Regions from separate parts of the Homo sapiens genome. Here region 1 is linked to region 2. The links come from fine-mapping of genetic effects on gene expression. A gene starts in region 2. The other region holds a variant in brackets. All regions are shown on one strand. Distances are from middle to middle.

The links. PIP is the estimated chance that this variant, and not a neighbour inherited with it, causes the effect.
Region 1: its variant is fine-mapped to the expression of INPP1 in cerebellar hemisphere (GTEx, PIP 0.99). The same link has a PIP of 0.9 or more in sigmoid colon and tibial nerve.

What each region holds. Positions count from the first base shown.
Region 1 is chr2:190,362,804-190,370,803 of GRCh38, forward strand. INPP1 (inositol polyphosphate-1-phosphatase) reads left to right here. Exons shown (of 7, transcript NM_001128928.2): 5 at 3,892-4,092; 6 at 6,300-6,474. Among named protein-coding and RNA genes, the nearest start is that of INPP1, 23 kb to the left of the region's middle. The variant G/A (reference allele first, on the strand shown) is at 3,974.
Region 2 is chr2:190,337,802-190,347,715 of GRCh38, forward strand. It overlaps INPP1 (inositol polyphosphate-1-phosphatase), which reads left to right and starts at 5,788. Exons shown (of 7, transcript NM_001128928.2): 1 at 5,788-6,160. It overlaps LOC124906109 (serine/arginine repetitive matrix protein 1), which reads right to left and starts at 7,248. Exons shown (of 1, transcript XM_047446773.1): 1 at 455-7,248. The coding sequence starts at 6,515. The coding sequence ends at 5,637. RefSeq lists silencers at 5,774-6,083, 6,154-6,483.

The DNA of each region.
Region 1 (8,000 bases), 24 kb after region 2:
ATTTGAATGTTAAGGTTCATTCAATTTCTACCTCAGAATATCATGCCATTTAACTTAAGTAGAGAGATGTGGTATCTTAGAATAATTTAGCAAGTCCATGTATCATTTTAGATATAAATCTGTGGCATTTAAGTAACTTATAACTCAAGCTTTGGGAAAATTGCATGGCCCTTTGGGAATCTAATGTAAGTTATTAATGCCCCAAAGATGCCCATCTACAAAATTATGCAGACAATTTCAGATCCTAGGTTTAAACCCATCTGTGCGCTCTTGGGGGAAGTCCATGGACCTTGGCTAAAAGTACAGAGGTGGCCATGGTTCTGAAATACTGTGTGATCTTGAGCAAATTAACTCATCATTTCTCTAAGTCTCAGAACCTCTGTGAAGTACTTGGATTAACTAAAAGATTCCTTTTAGTACTAAGTTTTTTGGTTTGTTTGTTTGTTTTTGAGACAGAGTTGCTCTGTTGCCCAGGCTGGAGTGCAGTGGCACAATCTCGGTTCACTGCAACCTCCACCTCCTGGATTCAAGCCATTCTCCTGCCTCATCCTCCTGAGTGGCTGGGATTACAAGCATGTGCCACCACACCTGGCTAATTTTTGTATTTTTAGTTAGAGATGGGATTTCACCATGTTGGCCAGGCTGGTCTCAAACTCCTGACCTCAGGTAATCTGATTTCTTTCAGAGAAACAATTTTTTTTTTTAGTTTGTTTGGATTTAATAGTAGAAGAATAAAATAGTGAACATTAAATACTGATCATGTGACAAATACTTATATATCTAGAAACACAATTACAAAGAAAAAATGAGTTTCTAGATTAACTCTGAAAATTTTTTAGTCTCCTTCATGCACCACATATTAAGATGCAGTTAGTTCTATGTTAGTAATACGGGAAAGAAATCTTTTAAACCTCTGAAGGTTAAAAATAACACTTATGCCTGACTTATAAGCAATCTTACATTTAAAAATCTACGCTTGACTACTTCACAAACAGCTATTTTAATACATCATTTGTCTAGAATTATAGAGGCAAAAGGCATAGCCACATCCATTTTCCTGTTTGTTAAAAGGGCAGAGAAATGTGGAGAGAGGAAGAGGAGAGATGGTGATGATGATATTGCAGGCAAGACCAGATCATAGGAAGGGATTTAGATTTCCCTCTCAGTGGGATGGGAGGTCTCTGGCAAATTTCAAGCAAAGGAGTGATATAATTTCTTCCTTTGAATGATCCCATAAGTTTTACTGAGCCCAGAGTAGGTGTGCAGTAAGTAGCCATTATTAGCTTTATTATTCCCCAACTTTAACAGTCTAATTTACTTTGAATTAAGTTAATTTAACTAAATTTGACTGTTTCTTGCTGATTCAGTCATCACTGTAATAGATGTATATTGTGCTTCCCACACTTTACTGGTCATGTAATCGCCTCAGGATCTTGGTTAAAATTCAGTAGGTCGGCCGGGCGCGGTGGCTCACGCCTGTAATCCCAGCACTTTGGGAGGCCAGGGCGGGTGGATCACAAGGTCAGGAAATTGAGTCCATCCTGGCTAACACGGTGAAACCCCGTCTCTACTTAAAAAATACAAAAAAATTAGCCGGGCGTGGTGGCGGGCGCCTGTAGTCCCAGATACTCAGGAGGCTGAGGCAGGAGAATGGCGTGAACCCGGGAGGCGGAGCTTGCAGTGAGCGGAGATCGCACCACTGCACTCCAGCTTGGGTGACAGAGCAAGACTCCGTCTCAAAAAAAAAAAAAATTTCAGTAGGTCTGGGGTGGCATCTGAGGTTCTGATTTTTTTTTTTTTTTTGTTAGATGGAGTCTCCCTCTGTTGCCCAGGCTGGAGTGCAGTGGCACAATCTTGGCTCACTGCAGCCTCCGCCTCCCAAATTCAAGCGATTCTCCTGCCTCAGCCTCCCAAGTAGCTGGGATTACAGACATGCTAAGCTACCTGCCACCACGCCTAGCTAATTTTTTTATACTTTTATTAGAGACAGGGGTTTCACTATGTTGACCAGGGTGGTCTTGAATTCCTGACCTCAAGTGATCTGCTTACCTCAGCCTCCTAAAGTACTGGGATTACAGGCATGAGCCACCACGCTCAGCCTAAGGTTCTGACTTTCTAATAAGCTCCCAGCTGATATAGACACTGCTGGTCCTTGGAATAAGAAGGGTAGAAGTAGCTACCTAGATAGCTACTAGATAGCTAGGAGTATCTAAAACGTTCCAAAGTGCCATGTTTTCTTAGTTTTTAAGATTTTTTTTCCTCCACTGCTGTCACTTCTTGTTGCTATTAACTTGCCTATTTTTTACCAGCCTCTTCCCTCACTTCTGTCAAGGGCTGAAACCAGATTAATCAAGGGTCTAAGAAGCATGTTTAAAGCGATGGTAAAGCACCTGGCCTCGGTAACTTATCGTTTCATTTGAAGAAGCAGCTTTGCTTATGTTCTGGTTCTCAATGGGCTCCACAGAGGAGAGCTATTTATATGTATACCATTTAGAGGCATAAAGTTTTACTACATTTAAAGATTGGTATATACCATTTTATGTTACTTAGCATAAACAATTTTAAGTTAAAAGCAATATCATATAAGGAGGTAGAAGCACTTCGGTGTGTTGAAAAACCTCCATTCTTTTCAATAACATATTCAGACACGGACAGGGTGACTTAAGTATATAAAAAGTCAAAAGACAAATTTTAAAAAGATTAATGATCAGGAATTCAGGAATTGTTAACTGGCCTATGTATCCCTTAACTGGGATACAAAATTGTGCCCACATGGGCATTTTTCTAGGGAGGTCTTTTGATTCCTGAAACCCATCTCTTACTATTCAGGTTAAGTGCCTGGGTAGCCACTGAGCATCTGACTTGATGAAGCCCCACCAGGTGATTCTGGCAGTCAGCCAGGCATAGGAACTGCTGGGATGGATATATTGCCCTCAATCTAAGTGCACAGCTTTTGATTCACTCTCTCACTGGCTCACTCTCTCTCTGTCTCTCTTGCTTGCTCTCTCGCTCTCTCTGTCTCAATCTTTGTCTCATTCTCTCGCTGTCTCTCTCGCTCTCTGTCTCTCTTGCTCTGTCTCTCTCTGTGTCTCTTGCTCTGTCTCGCTCTCTTGCTCTGTCTCACTGTCTCTCGCTCACTGTCTGTCTCACTCTTTTGCTCTCTCTCGCTCTCTCGCTCTGTCTCGCTCTCTCTCGCTCTCTCGCTCTGTCTCGCTCTCTCTCGCTCGCTCTCTGTCTCACTCTTTTGCTCTCTCTGTCTCTCTGTCTCTTTCACTCTGTCTCTCTCAGTCTCTCCCTGAATCTCTCGCTCTCTGTCTCGCTCTGTCTCTCTTGCTCTCTCTCGCTCTTTCGCTGTCTCTCTCGCTCTTTGTCTCTTGCTCTCTGTCTCTTGCTCTGTCTCGCTCTCTCGCTCTGTCTCTCTCTTGCTTGCTCTCTGTCTCACTCTTTCCCTCTGTCTCTTTCACTCTTCCTGTCTCTCTCTCGCTCTCTGTCTCTCTCGCTCTGTCTCACTCTCTCTGTCTCACTCTCTCGCTCTGTCTCTCTCTTGCTTGCTCTGTCTCACTCTTTTGCTCTGTCTCTTTCACTCTCCCTGTCTGTCTCTCTTGCTCTCACTCTGTCTCACTCTGTCTCACTCTGTCTCACTCTCTCTGTCTTGCTCTCTCTGTCTCTCGCTCTTTTGCTGTGTCTCTCGCTCTCTCTGTGTGTCTCTCTCTCACTCTCTTGCTCTGTCTCTCTCGCTCTTTCGCTCTGTCTCGCTCTCTGTGTCTCTCGCTCTCTCTCTGTCTCTCTCTCTCGCTCTCTCTGTCTCTCTCACTCTTTAGCTCTCTCTCTCTGTTCTTTCTCCACTGAAACTCTTGAAATGTAATGGCTTATCGTGTGGCTTTACCCTAGGGGAAAAGATTACCTTGAGGTTGTGTTCAACAGAGGAGGAAACAGCAGAGCTTCTTAGCAAAGTCCTCAATGGTAACAAGGT[G/A]GCATCTGAAGCATTAGCCAGGGTTGTTCATCAGGATGTTGCCTTTACTGACCCAACTCTGGATTCCACAGAGATCAATGTTCCACAGGACATTTTGGGAATTTGGGTGGACCCCATAGGTAAGTATAGGAAAGTATGTTTGTTCTTATTTGCAATCTTTTTTTTGGTGGTGGGGTTGGGGATGGGTGTTGGAAAAATAAAAATTATTGAGTGTAGTTTAACTCTGCTAGAAGTTTTTAAAATTTTAAAGTTTTAAAACAATGAGAGTTGAGGTGTATGTGTCATGTGTTCTGTATATATACATATATATTATAGCCGTGTGTATATATATACATATCTATAACAGGTGTGTGTATATACACACACATACATACAGGCACACATGCAAAGATGAATTAACTTCTCTTCAAAAGACTTCAGGGACCAGACTGGTAAGTAAATGAGAGAATGAAGTGAGAGCAGTTATGACCAATTGAGCACACATACCATTTAAAGAGCACTTAGCTTTAGCAGATTGTTACCATATGGGAGTACAGGCCAGCTCTTCAGATTTTTAAAGAGAAACCAAAATCCAAGGTTTTCAGCGATATATCCCAATTTCTAACCGTTAGCTACTAATTCAGTTAAAGAAGGAAACAATCAAAAAAACACAGTACAGGTCAAGCAAAAAGCTGAATGTGACGCATGAGCAGTTTGTGAGCCCTGCATGAGCTCTACATTTTTTTTGGTCATGATTGTGATAGAACCATAATGTATAATCCATTGTTTTGAAAATGTAACCCTTTTTTTTGAGACAGAGTCTCGTGTTGCACACAGGCTGGAGTGCAGTGGCACAGTCAGAACTCACTCACTGCAGCCTTGTCCTCCTGAGCTCAAGCAATCCTCCTATCTCAGCTTCCCAAGTAGCTGGGACCCAAGTAGGTGGCAGAGTTGCATGCCACCTCACTAGGCTAATTTTTTATATTGTTTTTAGAGAAGGGGTTTTTACCATGTTTCCCAGGCTGGTCTCGAACTCCTGGGTTCAAGCGATCTGCCTGCCTTGGCCTCCTAAAGTGCTAGGATGATTACAGGCATGACCTACCATGCCCAGCCAGCCTTTATCTTCAATGATGCTATTAATACAAGTTCTAGGTAATAATTTTAATAAGCTCCCCCTTCCTTTTTTTTCTTCCCCACCCAACACAATGGGACCATTCAAGGACCAGGCAAACTCCTCTCTGGGCCCTTCCCATCCTACAAGTGCATTCACAGGATGATACTGAAATGGGTTTAATCTTCAGATAATTATATCACATTCAGCCAGTGGATGATATATGGAAACTAAAAACCTTTCCCCAAATCTTTGATCATTTAAGGGTAAATTGGCATCAGTTATAGTTTCTGAGGGACAGAGATCTCCTGTTTCTTGGTTCCACCCTGAATTGATTCTGTTTTTGAGCTCTTTGAGTCTTTTGCCAGGCACATCCTTAGCCGTGTGTTGACTCCCTAGACGTCAGCAGTCAGCTGCTGGCATGTACATCTCTTAAGGGGAAACCTAGTTTCTCTGCCTCTGTTTCATAGGAGCTCCGTTAATTTCTTTTTTTGGTGCCACCATCATTGTCTCTTTCTTCCTTCTAACTTGAGGGACCAAATAATAATAGTAAAAGATAATATTACCTGTGACCTATTACAGGAGGGGGGCTTTTCTTTTTTTCTTTTCCTTTTTAAAATGTTTGTGGGTACATAATAGGTGTATATATTTATGGGGTAGATGAGATGTTTTGACACAGGCACACAATGTGAGATAAGCACATCATAGAGAATGGGGTATCCATCCCTTTGAGCATTTATCCTTTGAGTAATAAACAATCTAGTTACACTCTTTATTTTAAAATGTACAGTTAAGTTCTTATTGATTATAGTTACCCTATTGTGCTATCAAATAGTAGGTCTTTTTTTTTCACCCATTGGAAGGAGGCTTTTCCATCTCACATTGTACTAGTCCTCTGATTAGTAGTATTTCTAAAATAATCCCACCAATTATTCTGGTTATTACTTTTTCAATGCTTTTGATAAGTAACAAATATTTGAATGCCTGTTATATACAAATTGCTATGCCACAGGAACTATAGACACATCCTCTCCCTTCAAGAGTTCTCACAGTCAGGAAAATGAAACACAAGCAATTTAAAAGTAAAGTACAAGAGGCCAAATAACAATTCAATACAGTGACATCCAAAGGTAAAAAATTATTGGTTACCAAATCAGTAGAAGAGAGAAGTCATATGGAACAGAGTCTTCTAAATGATCTTTACCTGAATCCAAACACATTTGTTTCCTTTTTCAGATTCAACTTATCAGTATATAAAAGGTTCTGCTGACATTAAATCCAACCAGGGAATCTTCCCCTGTGGACTTCAGTGTGTCACCATTTTAATTGGTGTCTATGACATACAGACAGGGGTTCCCCTGATGGGAGTCATCAATCAACCTTTTGTGTCACGAGATCCAAACACCCTCAGGTAAAAGGCAAATATTTTTGGTATATTATGGTTGTTAGAACTTACGACCTCAGCTTTGCTTGTTGTTAGGATTATCACTATATGACATTCCCATGACTTAACACATGGGAGTGTTGCCATTGAAAGTCTGCGTATTTGAATTAAAGTTCTATTTTCAATCTTGGATTTGCGTAATTTTATTTCAGGCCAAGTGCATGCTGGTAGAAATTTTAAAATTAATACTATCCTGTAGAAATCATAGTTTTACATTTGGAATATAGTAATCCTGTTCCCTGTTTCTAGAATCCACTCAAAACCAGATAAGTAGAGTGGTGGTAACACTGCCTTCCAATACATTGGGAATAAGACAGCTGCCATCGCTGTATAGCCAGTTGAACTTTGGTATAATTTTAGAAGTTCAAAACAAAATGTGAAAATTATCCAATGAAAAGATTGGTAGGCATGGCCAGGATCAGAACCTAACTCACACTCCCTTTCTGCCTCCTCCCTTCCACTCTTCCATGCACTCTTAAACAGAGCGTAGAAAGTGGCCAGGACTCAGCTGCCTCTGATCCATGGCCTGTGCTTTGGGGTTGACTCCAGGGCATGGCAAAGTCCAGGTGGAACAAGCAGTTCAGCTTTTTATTGAAATAGGTCATATTTTTTCACTTATATAGGATTACATATTTTTATTGAACCTGAGCTGCTTCAAGTAACAATCATTTGCTCTTTAATAGTCATAAGTTTATACCTCTTAAGTTTTAATATTTTCCCCCTACCCCCACCATCTTCCAAACTAAAAATAGGTTTCTGCTATCTTTAAAAGGTTAATAAGAAATTAAAAAGAATTGGAACAATATGCAGACATAATCATGGCCTAGAAATGGAGGTGGTCAACAAAATAGTTTATGGCACAGATTCAGAGTGAGACTTTGTGGGTTTGAATGCAGATTCTACCACTTTCTAGCTGAGTGGGCCTCAGCAAGCTACTTACTTTCTCTAAGCCTGTTTCCTTATCTGTAAATATGTAACAACATAGACAGTAAGTTAAGCATTGATAAAGGGAAGGTGCTATAATTATTGTGGTTGCCAAAACTAATAACATTGAGTCCATCTTTCTTTGTGTTGGAAGCCAACGTGAAACTAGTGAATAAGAGAATGAAAAGGAGTTACCAAATAAAGAAAAACTTGTTATAGGGATTGTAGAATATTTGCAGATCAAAAAGAGATATCACTTTTCTATTCCTTTTTCCCTACTAAACTTTAAATACTAAAAGTTGTAATGAAATTTTGCAATGGTTCTGGAAGCTGGAAACCCCATAAATGTTTTAGTGTTGTCCTAGATTGATGTGATAATGCCATAAAATTGAAAGCATTTCTAATTGCAACAACTCAGGCAGCTGCATGCATATAAGTAACTTTCTGAAATAAACTAGCTACCTGATATCTATTCCTAGACTTAAAGGTGTTAAGATTCACCATGTTATGATGAATTGTGTATTTCTTCGTATCATTAAGTTTGAAAGTGACATGAGTAATGAAAAACA
Region 2 (9,914 bases):
GTCGGCTTCAAAGATAGGAAGAAGGTTTCCCCAATGCTGCCTCAACCAGAGCAATTTGACATTTATCTAATTTGTATGTTAGATTACATGTAAGAACTTTTTCTTAAAGATTCCACTGAAAACATCAAAATGTGGACACCACTGTACTGTATATATAATTTCTTCAATAAAATGCAATGGAGCATTACTTCTCAAAAACTACCGGAGAAGTGGAGAATAGTCAGAGTGTTATATTCCCAAACACTAGCCTCACAGCATAAACTTAAATCCCTGTTTCAGGAAATGTGTAAATCACTCTATAATTACCTTGCAAATAGTTCAAAGCTCGGATATAAAATCTGCAAATATCCAGGCCCTGTTGCAGTAAGGATAAAAGATTTGTGTTCTATGATGATCAACTGTTTCCTTTAGTATATTTAGTCTGTCATAACAGGAATCAATTTCCACTCAGATGTTTCAGCTGAAGAGACTTTATTGCGGGAACTATTTATAGAAGTTAGGGTTAGGGTTGGATGAAAGGAAACAAGAAACATGGAGGTACCTAGGAGTTAGCACAGCTAGGCCTGAAGAAATAAGGGGAGGGAATCACGTTAGTAGAGCCCAGTGAAGGCTGGCACAGTGGAGCAGGGCTGCCTTGCAGGAGGAGCCTTCAAGGGACAAAGCCACCATCAGAACCCAGCCAGAAGCAGGAAAAGAGGTGGTGAAACATATCCTAACCTTTTTTCCTTTTCCATCCTCCAATCTACTGATGGTGTTACCCATTGGTCAAAACCAACTGGCATGAGACCCCAGCTGGAATAGTTTATGAAAAATTCCACCTTCTGAGGCACAGAGTCTAGCAGAGAAGAGCAGAAGATGGCACTAAAACACAACAAGTGGAGAATAACCAGCATATTTATAACAGAGAAATACAAGTCCCCCCTTACCTGTGGGGGATACGTTTCAAGACCCCTCATGGATATCTGAAACTGCAGATAGTACTGAACCCTTTATATACAATGTTTTTTCCTATACATATCTATCTATGATTAAGTTATTAATATAAATAAGGCACAATAAGAGATTAACAACAATTACTGCTAATAAAATAGAATAGCCAGGCACAGTGGCTCATGCCTGTAATCCCAGCTCTTTGGAAAACCGAGGCGGGAGGATTACTTGAGGCCAGGAGTTCCTGGGCAACAGAGTCAGACTCCATCTGCACAAAAAATTAAAAAATTAGCTGGGCGTAGTGATGCACACCTGCAGTCCCAGCTACTTGGGAGGCTGAGGCAGGAAGATCACTTGAGCCAAAGAGTTTGAGGCTGCAGTGAGCTATGATTGCACCTTTGCACTCCAGCCTGGGTGACAGAATGAAGCCCTGTCTCTAAAAATAAAACAGAAAAGTAAAATAAGAACAGTTATACAAATATATTTTAATAAAAGTTATACACTGTGGCCATAACTTTTGCAGTTTGAGGTACAACAGCAAAACTAACGTGAATTTCTTTTTCCTTCACAATTTCACAGGTAGAAGATTCATTCTTATCATAGATCTTAGCGACCTCAGCATATGGATTTTTTTCTTTCCTTACTAATTCAAAAACTTTTGGGTTTTCACTTAAAAGAAGCACTTTATGACTTTTCTTTGGCATACCCAAATTGCCAACATTACTACTCTTGTGTTTAGGGGCCATTATTAAGTTAAATAAGTGTTACTTGGACATAAGTACTGCAATACCTTGACAGTAGGTCTGACAACCAAGCCAACTACAAAGTGACTAACAGACAGGGGAGCATCTACAGTGTGGACACACTGAACAAGAGGGATGACCCATGGCCTGGACAGGATACAGCAGGATGGTGCACAATGTAAAACTTATGAATTGTTTTATTTCTGGAATTTTTCATTTAATATTTTCAGATCTTGGTTGATCATAACTGAAACCTTGGAAGCAAAACCACAGATAAGGGGAGACTAGTGTACTGGGAACTCAGATGTTCGATAATAGAGGAAACCTTAACTAAATAATGATATCAACCATTCTGCTATTAAATAAAAGTGCTCAGAAGAGCATTATGTAATCAGGGAGTACAGAAGAGAGAGCAACCAACTCCTTACAGAGATTGTAATAAAAGATTTTCCCAAATTAACAAATGAGGTGCTTTGTTGTCCCCCAAGCAAAGTTTCGTATATTTTTTAATTATATAAACAATACATTTCATTATGGGAAACATATACATAAAACAAAAAGCAAATATCTACAATTCCATCCCCTGCCCTAGACCACTATAAATATCTGTTTATATCTTTCCAGATTTTTTTCTATGCATTTATACACACATGATTATGTTGTTTTCGGGATCACACCATATTATTTTGTAAACTGTATTTTCCACTTAATAAATCATAAATACTATTTTATCCAATAGATACCATTCTGCAACATTTTAAAATTTTAACACTTTTTAAAAACTTGCCTCCGTGTATCTAGTTGTAACTAATTTTTATTCTCGGACATTTAGTTTGGTTTCTCTTTTGGCCATTACCAAATGTACTGTGATGAGACTTTACATTTTGGGGGTGATACAGTTTGGATGTCCCATTCAAATTTCATGTTGAGATATAATCTCCAGTGTTGGAGGTGGAGCCTGGTGGGAGGTGTTTGGATCATAGGGGCGGATCCCTCATGAATAGCTTGGGCCATCTCCTTGGTGATAAGTGTGCTCTCACTCTGAGCTCACAGGGATCTCATTGTTTATGTGGCTCCTCCCCCCCAACTCCTTCTTGCTCCCGTTCTCACCATGTGAGACATCTGCTCCCCATCACCTTCCAGCATGATTGGAAGCTTCCTGAGGCCCCCCCAGAAGCAGATGGCATTATGCTTCCTGTACAGCCTGCAGAACCATGAGCCAGTTAAACCTCTTTTCATATAAATTAACCAGCCTCAGGTATTTCTTTATAGTAATGCAAGAATGGCCTAACAAGGGTGGGGGGAGGGGGGGCAGTTTTTTTTTTTTTTAAACACACACACAAAAGAAAAGCCACAGAGACATATGTGGCCTTCAAAGCCCAAAGTATTTGCCATCTGACCTTTTATAGAAAATGTTTGTATTATAAATTTCCAGGAATGTAATTTTTAAGTCAAAGTGTGTGAACATTTTTGACGCTTTCACTACATTCTGTCAAATTGCTCTCCAGAATCGTTGAGCCAATTTACACCCTTCTCAGTAATGTATGAGTTTCTTTAGTTGCTATACATCCTACTCCAAGGGTCACTGGCCCAAATTACTAGCTCTGAGTATTATTTTATTCTCAATTTGATGGTGCATTATCGTTTTAAGTTTTTACTTCTCTTAAAAATGTTTGGCCATTTACATTTTTCTCTCATGATGACGAATTTGCATTTTGCTCATTTTTAGTAGGCTATTTTTTCTTTCTAAGTTCTCTTTAATGTTATGCTTATCTGTCATGTATATTGCAAATTTTTTGTAATTTTTACTTGTTTTTAAATTTTATTCTATGGGGTTTTTTTTTGGATAAAAGAAGTTAAAAGTTCAACAGTCAGATCTGTCACTTTTCCTTTGTAATTTCAGCCGTTGTTTCATGCTTAGTTTGAGATTAAAAGCAATTCACTTGTATTTTCTCCTTGCCCTTTTAAGACTTAAAAACATTTAAATCTTTTAATCCTGTTCAAATTTAGTGTCTGGGAAACATTTTAGAAGGATGAATAGGTAATATTATGTTAGTCCTGGAGTCAGATTGCTGGGTTCAAATTTAGCCTCACCAAATACTACATATTTCTGCAAATCACTTAAACTCTTTAAGTCTTAGTTTTCTTGTTTATAAAATGGAGATAACAGTAACATTTACCATAGGGTTGATGTAAGAATTAACAGTTATAAATCACAGAAAGTACTTAGCACAGTGTCATTAGCTATTATTATAGCAGCAAGAGAATACTCTCCCAGGCAAAAGCAATAACATGTATAAAGGTGCAAATGTATGAAATCTGTTTGCATATTCAGGGAACTAGATGTGGTGTAGTAAAATGAGGTGTAATATTCAAGGGGCAGAGTTGACAGATGCGAGGGGTGATGGGTCTTGAATGAGTTGTTCAGGAACTTGCTCTTGATATTATCAGAGATTGGGAGCCAATGAAAGCTTTTAAGCAAGCAAGAAACCCTGCAGATGTGTGGTAGCAAAGTGGAAAATGGACTAGATTCCGCCAGGTGCAGTGGCTCACGCCTGGAATCCTAGCACTTTGGGAGGCTGAGCTGGGCGGATCCCCTGAGGTCAGGAGTTCGAGACCAGCCTGGCCAACATGGTGAAACCTCGTCTCTACTAAAAATACAAAATTAGCTGGGCATAGTGGCAGTCACTTGTAATCCCAGTTACTAGGGAGGCTGAGGTGGGAGAATCGCTTGAACGAAGGAGGCAGAGGTTGCAGTGAGCCAAGATCATGCCACTGCACTCCAGCCTGGGCGACAGAGTGAGACTCTATCTTAAAAATAAAAAAAAAAGAAAAGAAAAGAAAAGAAAAATGGACTAGATTTATATCCCTTGCTCCACCCTGTCTTCCCCAAATTTAAATTCCTGCTTCCTAGAGGCAAATTCTTTCACCTTCTATGTCTCTGGTATTTATCTCCTTACTTTTAAGAATCATGTTTAAATTGTTTCTTGATTTTGCCATCATAGATATGATTATGAGGCTAATTAAACAGTAATCCTAACCGCTCTGAGAATGGACCTAAGAAATGAATGTGAGAAAGAAAGTAGAAGCAGCCCACTTGCTAGTGAGTGAAAGCCAGGGAAGGGTGGGGGGATGCGGGGAGAAATTGTCTCAAGTTGGAGAACCCAGGTGCAGGCTGGGAGCAGTACCATGAATTCCATTCAAGAAGCCAAACGTTTTAAGCACCATTTCCTGGAGTTTGCCAAGTTGAGTATTGACCCAGCCTCCTGTCTTGTTGGTTCCTCACTGCTGAAGAAGACCAAGTGTTGACAACTCAGTGAGGCAGTCTCAGCTGGAGTGGAAAAATGTAGCTAAGAAAACGTGCCAGACAAAGCTTTAAGCAGAGCTTCCCAACTGGATGCCGTGAAACGAATGACAGGGATGCAGATACAGCATGGGTCTTCCCAGCCCTCCAAGTGCAAGGGCTTCTGCAGGAAGCCTTCTGCAGGAGCAGCCTCTTCTGTTTACCCCCATTTTGACCCTTGTAATATCATCCTTTCCTACCTGTGCCAAGAAGTGAAAAGGTGTGTGAAGCGCCGCTTTAGAAGGCCCAGTACATTCACAAACATCAGCTTCTGGGCGAGGCTGCTTGGCCTCTTCTATTCAAAACTTTGTGTTGCCCTTTTAAGGTTTCTATTCCCCCCACCCCCACCCCGCCCACCAACACCCATTCCTACCTAGGTTCAACCCAAACCATCCTTAAGGTACACTGAGTATCACAGCACCAAAGGCTGGAGAGAGATAAGTTCCCCACCCTTGATGCGCTTCCTGTCCAGGTGGCCCGAGGCCCACTCCTTAAGAGGCAAGGCCCAGAGACACTGCTGTGTCTTGAGGAACATCCAGTACACCTGACATTTCCATTAGAACAGTGGGACCCGGATACCACTGGCAGGAAGTCCATCTTCACAGCTGCCAACCCATCTGTCAAACCCGCAGTCCCCTATGAGAGTACAGATGAATGGAGGAGGAAGATTTAAAAGTGAATTCGTGGGCGGCGACAAGGAAACAGCAGCCGTGGCCAAGCTGACCCCAGAGCCCTTCCCTTCCTGGCCCTCCCTCTGAATCATCGCGCTCCACTTGTGACGTCGCGGACGCCCGGCTCGGGCAGGCGTGGGGGGCCCGCGCGTCCCGGGAGCCCCGAGGCGGCAGCGCGCGTTTCCACGCCGCGGTCCCGCGGGAAAGCCGGGGGCGGCGGCCTGGCTGAGGCCAAGCTCGGATCCGGTGCCGAGCCAAGCGGGGCCGTGCGTCGCCGGGGCTTCGCCTTCGCTCGCGTGACCTCCGCCGTCCTCCCCAACCCTCGTCCTCTGGCCGCGCCTGCGGCCGCACGCCCAGCGCCCCTCGCCTAACCTCGCGCCCGGGCCGCGCCTCCTCCTCCTCCTGCTCCCCGCCGCTTCCGTTTCTCGAGGGAAAGGCTGCTGCCTCCTGCTCTGTCCTCATCCCCGGCTTAGGTAACACGTTTTCCTCCTTACGACACCCACCACAGGGTCCCCGCGCCGCTGCCCCTCCTCCTTGGATCTGGGGCCCGGGCTGGTGAGCGGCGCGCGCCGTCGCCTCTCCGCGGGTAGGTGAGTCGATGGCGCCGGGAGGGTTCCTCGCCTCTGCGCGCCGGCCTGCGAGGTCCCTGCCCCGGCAGCGAGGCCGCCCCCGGCCGGGCCCGGCCAGGCATGCCCGGCATCGCCGCTGCAGCCAGCGCGGAGGGGAGCTCGTGAGTCCCGCGGCGCCCTTGGCCCTGCCCGAGCGGCCCGATGGGGTTGGGGGGCGGGAAGAAAGGGTGGCAAACAACGATTTTAAAAATCCAGTCATTAGTATTTGTAGGACGAAGAAGCTGATCTGACAGTTGTCCAGAGCAGTGGCCCAGCTGCAACAGGTAGATGGCGCAGCTGTCAGTGACCCCTTGGTCTCAGCCTTGGCTTTGAGAGATGCATCTGAGTGTCCCTAGCTGCCAGCTACCTCCAGTGACCTACTTGATGAGTGTGAAATAAATATGATGGGACTATATTTAGAAAAATCTTTACTTCCTTGCTGTTAATTCTCTCTGCATTTTGAAAGGTGGTTTTGTGAGGTGTGCATAATTAGTTGGTGTGTCCAGAGTGGTAGCTGGAAAAAAATATTTAACCTGGGTTTGGCCCTATCATGTAGACGGTTAGGCGCAAAGAGTGTGAAAGGAAACGCTTACTTTAGTACATCTGTGAAAAACACTTATAAGAAACCACGGCTTGTTTTTTGGAGATTTCTCATTTTAAAGGTATTTTTAAAGTGTTGAATAAGCAGAAGTTTGCCCACTGTATGATGGTGTTCACTTCAAAAGAACAGTGGGTTAAAAGTATGGACAGACCACTTAAGTGGATCCCATCTGTTGAGTAAAAGATTTTTTAGCCCTTTTACACTGATTCCTAGCTTTGAAGCCAGAAAAGTTGATAAGGATCAGCCCTGCTCAACTTGATAATAGTATAAGGATGAAAGTAATCCACTGAACTACTCTTGATTGGTGAATTAGCTAAGTGATCTCATTCTTACCTTTTAAAATAGAGAACATAAGGGAAAAAATAAAGGCAATGGAAGAATTCATTTTTTCAATACAGATATTTGTTTCCATTCTTATGTAGAGCCTACTTTATTTTTAAGTTTTTATGGATTTTTATACTACTTTTGAAGTCAGCTTAGTCATGAAGAGAATTATGTCAAATACATAGAGTTACACTGTACTTTTTGTGTAGAATAAGCTACCACTTTTCAAGCTTTTGGACTAAACCACCGCTTGCTTGGAAATTGCAGCTTTGACTAATGCCCTTTAAAATGATATACCTTATTATAGATTTAAATTATAGCTTTCCTTGTTATAGTCCTGAAAAAAATGAAAAGATAATTTCTTGTTTGACATAGAAGGCCTGTGAGACAAAAGTTATAAAGGTTATTATATATTTATTTTGCTTTTTAATTCTGTCTCTAATAACAGTTAGAAAATGTCTCATTCTATTTCATGTTATACAGAAATTGCTTAAAAGATAATTATGTTATATAAAGTGATCAATGAAAACAAACGTCATCTTCATTTTTTAAAGGTGAGGATGGTGTATATAAGCACTTTTTCCCGATGTGAGTCCTTATGAATGTTCTTGTTAAAATACTTTGAATCTTGTAATGAAGTTAATAAAACTATGTTAATGTGTTTGGCTGAGAGCTTAGAAATAAAGGCTCTGGCTGGCGTGGTGGCTCACGCCTGTTATCCCTGCACTTTGGGAGGCCAAGGCAGGTGGATCACTTGAGGTTAGGAGTTCGAGACCAGCCTGGCCAACATGGTGAAACCCCGTCTCTAGTAAAAATACAAAAATTAGCCAGGCGTGGTAGCAAGCACCTGTAGTCCCAGCTATTCAGGAGGCTGAGGCTGGAGGATCCCTGGAACCTAGGAATCAGAGGTTGCAGTGAGCCCAGATCGCGCCACTGCACTCCAGCCTGGGCGACAAAGCAAGACTTCATCTCAAAAAATAAAAATTAAGTTAAAATTAAAAAAATAAAAGTTCTGCTTCCCGTCTCCTGTGATTGATGTTGGGTACTGTTTCTCAAACTTGTCTGATTGTAAAATTCCTCAGGGTAGTAGGCAAGTCGGGGAGTGGGTAGAGTATAATAGTGGTTTAAAAGATTCCCAGATTGCAACTTGAGACTTCCTGGATCAGAATTTCTAAGAGAAAGGAGATATTTCAAATAGACAAAAATGATAAAATTTTAAAATAGTCAACAACAACAAAAAAGGTGAGTTTGGGAAATGCAGGTGGGAAATGACTATTGTTGGAATGAATAGTTGATAAAACTTATTAGGACTCCTGTACATAAAATGTTCATATATGGAAACTGATTTTATTAATATGATGAGGCCACTCATTTAGGAAATCTGAAACTTTTATATTTTTTTCTGGTCAAGCTTCTGCTGATCAAATTTAGCAAACATATTTTTGCATGTTTAGTCTTTTTTATGTGGTATGTAATGTTAATTCAATTTCTTGAATGTGATAAGAGCATTTTATTAATGGATGACTAATGCAGATTACTGTAACTAGTAATCCACAGCAAAATATTGTACCTAATAATTTCTCTTTCTTTTTTTTCTTTTTTTCTTGAGAAAAGGTCACACTCTGTCATCCAGGCTGGAGTACAGTGGTGTGATCATGGCTTATGCAGTCTCCACCTCTCAGGCTCAAGGAATCCTCCCACCCCAGCCTCCCGAGTGTCTGGGACTACAGGCACGTGCCACCATCCCAGCTAATTTTTAAAATTGTAGAGATGGGGTCCCACTATGTTGCCCAGGTTGGTCTCAAACTCCTGGGCTCATGACATCCTCCTGCCTCAGCCTCCCAAAATGCTGGGACTACAGGTGTGAGCTGCTGCACCCAGCCTAATTTCTTTCATATTATAGATTTATTTGTTACCTCTTCCATGTGCCTGATTAAATAATTATAGGCAAGACAGGCATGCAAATTTGAATACCTTATTAGTAGCTTTTTTTTTTTTTTTTTTTTTTGAGACAGAGCCTCACTCTGTTGCCCAGGCTAGAGTGCAGTGGTGTGATCTCGGCTCACAGCAACCTCTGCCTCCCAGGTTCAAGCGATTCTCCTGCCTCAGCCTCCCGAGTAGCTGGGATTACAGGTGCCCGCTACCACACCAGGCTAATTTTTTGTATTTTTAGTAGAGATGGGGTTTCACAGTGTTAGCCAGGATGGTCTCGATCTCCTGACCTCGTGATCCACCCGCCTTGGCCTCCCAAAGTGCTGGGATTACAGGCGTGAGCCACCACACCTGGCTCCTTATTTGTAGCTTTTTAAAAAATGACTCTCAACCCCATTCAAAAAAGAAAAAAAAATTTATTTGGCCCTAAAACTTGGTCAGTTATATATAAAAAAATTAAAGAAATAGAATATTAAATACCTATAAAATAATTTGACAAGATGAGTTACCATAATGGAAAATGTCAGAATTTATTTTCCTTTTCCTTCTTCCTCTTTACATTGCTTTTCTTTCTCCTTTTTTGGGGGGGGATGGAGAGTGTGTGTTATTTGCTCATTTGTTTTTATTTTTAACCAACTAAATATTTAAAATATAGTAAATTATCCATGTTTAAATTAATTTAAATATTTGCCAACTTTACCAATAGATATTTAAACTTGCCCTTTTCCTCTAAAGTGACAGTGGTAGGCTTTGCTCAATGCA